2 linked regions of the Homo sapiens genome follow. The protein of the gene in region 1 interacts with the protein of each later gene in a pairwise test. Each region holds a gene or a part of one and is shown in the gene's direction. Other genes may lie near its edges.

The links. The genes of interacting proteins can lie anywhere in the genome.
Region 2: the proteins of CRADD (region 1) and TSHR interact in a two-hybrid assay, tested with the Homo sapiens proteins (one large-scale study listed by BioGRID and IntAct).

What each region holds. Positions count from the first base shown.
Region 1 is NC_000012.12:93,683,835-93,687,490, forward strand, and holds part of CRADD (death domain-containing protein CRADD), read left to right. Parts: intron 1-3,656. UniProt on the Homo sapiens protein: Adapter protein that associates with PIDD1 and the caspase CASP2 to form the PIDDosome, a complex that activates CASP2 and triggers apoptosis.
Region 2 is NC_000014.9:81,143,714-81,146,962, forward strand, and holds the end of TSHR (thyrotropin receptor isoform 1 precursor), read left to right. Parts: coding exon 1-640; 3' UTR 641-2,593; downstream 2,594-3,249. UniProt on the Homo sapiens protein: Receptor for the thyroid-stimulating hormone (TSH) or thyrotropin. Also acts as a receptor for the heterodimeric glycoprotein hormone (GPHA2:GPHB5) or thyrostimulin. The activity of this receptor is mediated by G proteins which activate adenylate cyclase.

The sequences.
Region 1 (3,656 bases):
GTTCCTCCAATCATACCACGTAATTGACCTTGCTCTGCATGTAAGTTCAGTGTTGGTCTCAGTGTATCTAGCTTGCAGTCTATCCATGTGCTTCCACTGTGACTGAGTAGTGTTTGCCTAGTGGCGTCCTGTGTGCTAGAGTGAGAACAGTGGGTCAGTATCCATAGCAAGACCCTTCCCTCGGTAAAGGGAGAGTCTGCAGAGGGCCCAGGTTTCTGTGTATACCCAGCCCGATTTTCATATACTTCCTAAGGACCTACTGAATGCCAGGTACTGGGTATATAAAGACAAATGGAGGATCTCCAGATCAGTTGAGGGCATTCATGCGTTCATCCAGCAAATATTTGCTGAGTCTTGACCATGTGCTAAACCAGAGGTCCCCAGCCTTTTTGGCGTCAGAGACTGGTTTTGTGGAAGACAATTTTTCAACCAACGGGAGAGTTGGGGGGAATGATGGTTTCGGGATGAAACTGTTCCACCTTAGATTATTACCAGGCATTAGATTCTCATAAGGAGTGCGCGACCTCGATCTCTGGCATGTGCAGTTCACAATAGGTTCATGCTCCTATGAGAGTCTAATGCCACTGCTGATCCAATAGGAGGAGGAGCTCAGGTGGTAATCCTCGCTTGCCTGCCACTTACCTCCTGCTCTGCGATCCGGTTCCTAATAGGCCACGGACCGGTATGGGAGTTGGGGACCCCTGTGCAAGACAGTAGGTGCTGGAGATATAACAGTAAACAAAACAAAGCCCTTATTTTCATGGAGTTCAATGTATTCTAGTAGAGGGAGGGGATAAGGGCAGGGACAGATAATAAGCAAATGAATAAATAACATTTGGTGGTGAAGAGCGCTATGAAGAGAAGCGGTATGTGTGGTGGTGGGGGTGGTCAGGGAAAGCCTCTCTGATGAGGGGACACTGAGCAGAGAACTGAGTTTGGCTGCAGAGTTGATACAGGGAGGAGAGCTTTCAGATAGAGGGGACCACAAATACACAGGAAGTCAAGTGGGAGCCACAGGTGACAATGTGGCTAATAAGACACCTTCCTCCCTGGGATGAATCACATTCCACATCAGCAGAGGCTCAGTGGCTACCTTTTGTTTTGCTCTCAACATGTGAGATGTGTGTGCAGCCGTGATCTTGTGTGGCTCGTAGCATGACTTTAGTTGATACGTGGATGTGGGATTAAGTAATATTGAATTACATGATGAGAAAGTTATTTCCTTTCTATTTCTGTTTCAGTTCGGTAAGAATGATAGGAGGTCCTCATGCTTAAAGCCTTCTGTGGGCAACAGTATTTAGCTAGAATCTAGTTGTATTGCTTTTTTTGTGTCAACTTAATGGGTTCCTTCCATTTATGGCAAGCAAAACTTTTCTATTTACGAAGTTCCTTTTAAAAATACATGACTTTTAGAGACTAGAATTGTGGTTATTAGGGACTGGGAAGGGTATGAGGGAGGCAGGGATGGGGAGGTTGGTTAATGGATACAAAATTACAGCTAGATGGGTGGAATAAGTTCTAATGTCCTAGCACTGTAGGGTGAATATGGTTAACAGGAATTTATTATGTGTTTTCAAAATGCTAGAAGAGAGGATTTTGAATATTCCCAGCACAAAGAAAGAATAAATGTTTGACATGATGGATATACTGATTGCCCTTATTTGATCATTACACATTGTATGCATGTATTGAAATGTTACCCTGTATCCCATAAATATATACAATTTTTATGTATCAACCAAAAATAAAAAGAAAAATGTTCATAGGAATATTGAATAGGAAATAAGATTGAAAGTATACCAAATTATTTAGGAAAAAACCATTACTTACATTTAAGTAGAAATGTGTCAACATAAAGGAGACTATAAAAAAATAGGCCAGGCACAGTGGCTCACTCCTGTGATCCCAGCATTTTGGGAGGCCGAGGCGGGCAGATCACCTGAGGTCAGGAGTTTGAGACCAGCCTGGCCAACATGGTGAAACCCCCATCTCTACTTAAAATACAAAAATTAGCCAGGCGTGGTGGCAGGCGCCTGGAATCCCAGCTACTTGGGAGGCTGAGGCAGGAGAATCGCTTGAACCTGGCAGGTGGAGGTTGTAGTGAGCTGAGATCGCGCCATTGCACTCCAGCCTGGGGGACAAGAGCGAAACTTCGTCTAAAAAACAAAACCAACGGAAATAATGGTTGGGTGTAGTGGCTCATGCCTGTAATCCCTACACTTTGGGAGGCTGAGGCGGGTGAATCACTTGAGGTCAGGAGTTTGAGACCAGCCTGGCCAACATGGTGAAACCCCATTTTTACTAAAAATACAAAAAATTAACCGGGTGTGGTGGCAGGCACCTGTAATCCTAGCTAGTCAGGAGGCTGAGGCAGGAGAATTGCTTGAACTCAGGAGGTGGAGGTTGCAGTGAGCCGAGATTGTGCCACTGCACTCCAGCCTGGGCAACAGAGTGAGACTCCATCCCCCCCAAAAAAAAAAAAAAAAAAAAAGAAAAGAAAATAATAATGGTGTGAGGATGTGGCCAAAAGTTGCTTTTCATCATATATTTTTTTAATTTAAAAAGAAAGACAGGCATTTGGGGGAGGAGCCATCACCTGGCTGGCATAGTTAAAGCAGGAAGGCTCCAGTTCTAGTATAGATAGTAGATAGAGCTGTTTTCATGATGCTTCACAGTTTTGCTCTTTCAATTTATGCCCAGTGATAGGAATTAGTTAAATTAACTAGAATTTCAAAATTCGTAAGTTCTCTAAATTTTAAACACATTTACTTGCTAGTGAAACAAAGTCAGCAAGATGGAGCCATATCCTGGTATTATGAATTTTAGAACTGGGTGGGACTCACAGGTCATCTAATTTTTCTCTGAGAAAACAGAGGCCTAGGGAGATTAAGTCAACTTGCCCATGATCACACAGCTAGTTAATGTAATTTATTACTGGGACTAGAATCCAGGCTTTGCAACTCTTGATTTAGGACTTTTTCTGCTGCGCAATCTTGGCTTCCCACTGAGTTTGAAATGGAATTGTATTATGCTGCAGTGTTAATAATTGAAAGAGGCTTTTTAAAAATTGTACTAATGCATTTTTTTTTTTTTCATTTTAAGAGGAGAATTTCCAAGGGCCTTTAGAGGTATGCTGGAATGAGATTTCACTAAAATATTTTATTTTTATGAATGCTAATTTTAATCATTTAAAAGGAAATGATGATCGTTCAGTACTGCATTTTGTCACAAGATTTTTTTCTTCCTACCTCTGCAAGGCTGACATAAAGGAAAAGCGGAAGACTTTCATCGAGTATTTATGGGACTGATGAAATAATGCATCTGTTGGCAGCTAATTGCAGGTCTTTCTAGGAATAGCAAACATGTGACAGGTCTTGCCCCAGCGGAGATGCCTCCATTTCACTTTAAAACATGGATTTGGTATTCTTTTCACTTAGAAATTCTGGCTATGCCTTTTTTTCTCCCTTCTGTGGATGTATAGACCGTTCGGCTGCATCAGACACTGTATTGAACATCAGGGTTGATTTAACTCATTGTTGCTCAGCTGTGGCTATGCTTTGGAATCACCTGGGGAGCTTTTACAAAACTACTGATGCCCAGGCTCTACTCCAGGTGAATCCATTACACAATCTCTGGAGGGTGGGTTCTGGGCAATG
Region 2 (3,249 bases), on another chromosome or scaffold:
CGCCCTGCTTCCTTTGGTGGGAATAAGTAGCTATGCCAAAGTCAGTATCTGCCTGCCCATGGACACCGAGACCCCTCTTGCTCTGGCATATATTGTTTTTGTTCTGACGCTCAACATAGTTGCCTTCGTCATCGTCTGCTGCTGTTATGTGAAGATCTACATCACAGTCCGAAATCCGCAGTACAACCCAGGGGACAAAGATACCAAAATTGCCAAGAGGATGGCTGTGTTGATCTTCACCGACTTCATATGCATGGCCCCAATCTCATTCTATGCTCTGTCAGCAATTCTGAACAAGCCTCTCATCACTGTTAGCAACTCCAAAATCTTGCTGGTACTCTTCTATCCACTTAACTCCTGTGCCAATCCATTCCTCTATGCTATTTTCACCAAGGCCTTCCAGAGGGATGTGTTCATCCTACTCAGCAAGTTTGGCATCTGTAAACGCCAGGCTCAGGCATACCGGGGGCAGAGGGTTCCTCCAAAGAACAGCACTGATATTCAGGTTCAAAAGGTTACCCACGAGATGAGGCAGGGTCTCCACAACATGGAAGATGTCTATGAACTGATTGAAAACTCCCATCTAACCCCAAAGAAGCAAGGCCAAATCTCAGAAGAGTATATGCAAACGGTTTTGTAAGTTAACACTACACTACTCACAATGGTAGGGGAACTTACAAAATAATAGTTTCTTGAATATGCATTCCAATCCCATGACACCCCCAACACATAGCTGCCCTCACTCTTGTGCAGGCGATGTTTCAATGTTTCATGGGGCAAGAGTTTATCTCTGGAGAGTGATTAGTATTAACCTAATCATTGCCCCCAAGAAGGAAGTTAGGCTACCAGCATATTTGAATGCCAGGTGAAATCAAAATAATCTACACTATCTAGAAGACTTTCTTGATGCCAAGTCCAGAGATGTCATTGTGTAGGATGTTCAGTAAATATTAACTGAGCTATGTCAATATAGAGCTTCTCAGTTTTGTATAACATTTCATACTAAAGATTCAGCAAATGGAAAATGCTATTAATTTGGTTGGTGACCACAAGATAAAATCAGTCCCACGTTGGCTCAGTTCAACTAGATGTTCCCTGATACAAAGAGAACTTGATTTCCTTAAAACTGAAAAGCCAAACACAGCTAGCTGTCATACAAGAAACAGCTATTATGAGACATGAAGGAGGGTAAGAATTAGCTTTAAGTTTTGTTTTGCTTTGTTTTGTTTTTTAACTCAACCTATTAATCATCTCTTCACAAGAATCCACCTGATGTGACCAAGCTATTATGTGTTGCCTGGAAAAACTGGCAAGATTTCAGCTTATGTGGCCTAGCAAACTAAGAATTGCTCTTCTTGGCCAGCCTCATAGCATAAAAGATGTGAACTCTAGGAAGTCTTTCTGAGTAGCAATAAGTGGGAATTATGGGCAGAGCACACTCAATCCCCTGTTGATTAATAAAACAGGCTGGACACTAATTAACTATGGGACTTAAATCTGTAGAAATGAAGGAGTCCAATAGCTTCTTCCAATTTTAAAACTCTAGTACATCCCTTTCCCTCAAATATATATTTCTAAGATAAAGAGAAAGAAGAGCACTAAGTAAGTAGAATCTGTTTTTCCTATTTTGTAGGGCTGCTGACTCCTAGTCCTTGAAGCCTAGACACATGACCCAGGAAATTTTTCCTTTGTTTCACTTTTGATTATGATGTCTGAGCCAAAAATTCAATTAAGTAAACATACTCGCCTGGATCTGAATCATTCATTTAATTACTAGATCTACCCAGCTGTTATATCAGGCCAAAAACAGATTCGTGTTTATATAAAAGAGTAAACGATGGTTGCAAATTTTGGCTATTTAGAGTTGCTACTTCACTATGAAGAGTCACTTCAAAACACTTCGCTTGTCTTTAGGGATGATTTTTGCCATTTCCAGTCCACGGTATGATACTAAAGCTGTCAAGAGAGGTTTCTTCTTTTCTGAAACTGCCAGCTCTTTCCAGCCCTGTTGATCACTGGACATAAAGCTTCTTTTCCCCAATAATTCTTCTTTACTTAAAATAGTCAGGATCTTTATCTACAGATGTACTCTCCAGGTTACCTGTGATGATAGCCCCCTAATGTCCTGCTAGAAAAGTCTCCAAGCAGAGATGACATTACTTCTGAATGCTCATAAACCACACCATGAAATAAAAGCTCTTTGTTGTTTTAAGATTGTGAAGTGTCGTTAATGGGTCCCCACAGATGGTCCCTGCTGGACTCACCTGGAATCTCTCCACAGCCATACCCACTCATCACTATCATTGAGACCTGCACATCTTAATAGAAATATTATAAACATCGAAAATCATGACTTACCTAGAAGTTCGCTTGTAACTAATGAAATTAAACAAATGTGTTGCCTTTTGTCATGTGTTTCTCTCCTGTGACATTTCAAAATATCACATCTTGATAAATAATGTGTTTCATCTTGAATAGCTGAACTAATTGCTTTGGAAACAGAGTCCTAGAAAAGTGACTTCAACAGAATTGTTACTAAAATTTGCACTCACAACATGAAATAAATTTTCTTCCTATGGAATAATCGTGCCAAGTCCTAGAGTGTTGTTCTTTTTTGTTAATCTGTGAGTTTCTTTCGGGGTTACTATTGTATGTGTTAAAACTGAAGACAAGAAAACTAATTGGCACATTTGCTAATGAATCCATATTAATAAATAAGTTGTTGACTGTCAATTAATAACTTAAATATAACATTGTGTCTTGATCAAAAGTGGTCTTTATGTGGAAAAACTTACTCCTGGTGAACTGAATTATGATTAATTGACAGGGATCACTAAGAGAAAAAACAATAAAACCAAATATATCAAGCAAATGATTGGTATTGACACTAGAAATTTAAATAGTGTGCTAATGAAGACAATAAACCTCTAAGGCCTCAGAGGCCTTATTATTATTCAGAGCTCATGTTATCTAGCACCTTTCAATTATCTGAAGATAAACCCAAATCATTGAGGATAAATGGCCACAGACTAGTCGCAGTGGAGGTCACACAATTCATTCTCTAAAGCTCATGCATGTTTCTCAAAAGGCTGTCTCTTAAAACACCCCCAAAGTTTATTGACTCTTGCTTTAAGGATAATCTACTGCATCAAAGAAGCAGCCAATGAGGAGAGGGTCTTACAGGGCAGCACCATGAGAGTGGCAATAAAGTAAAAGTCAGGGCAAAAAGAAGAAAACTATAACCACAAT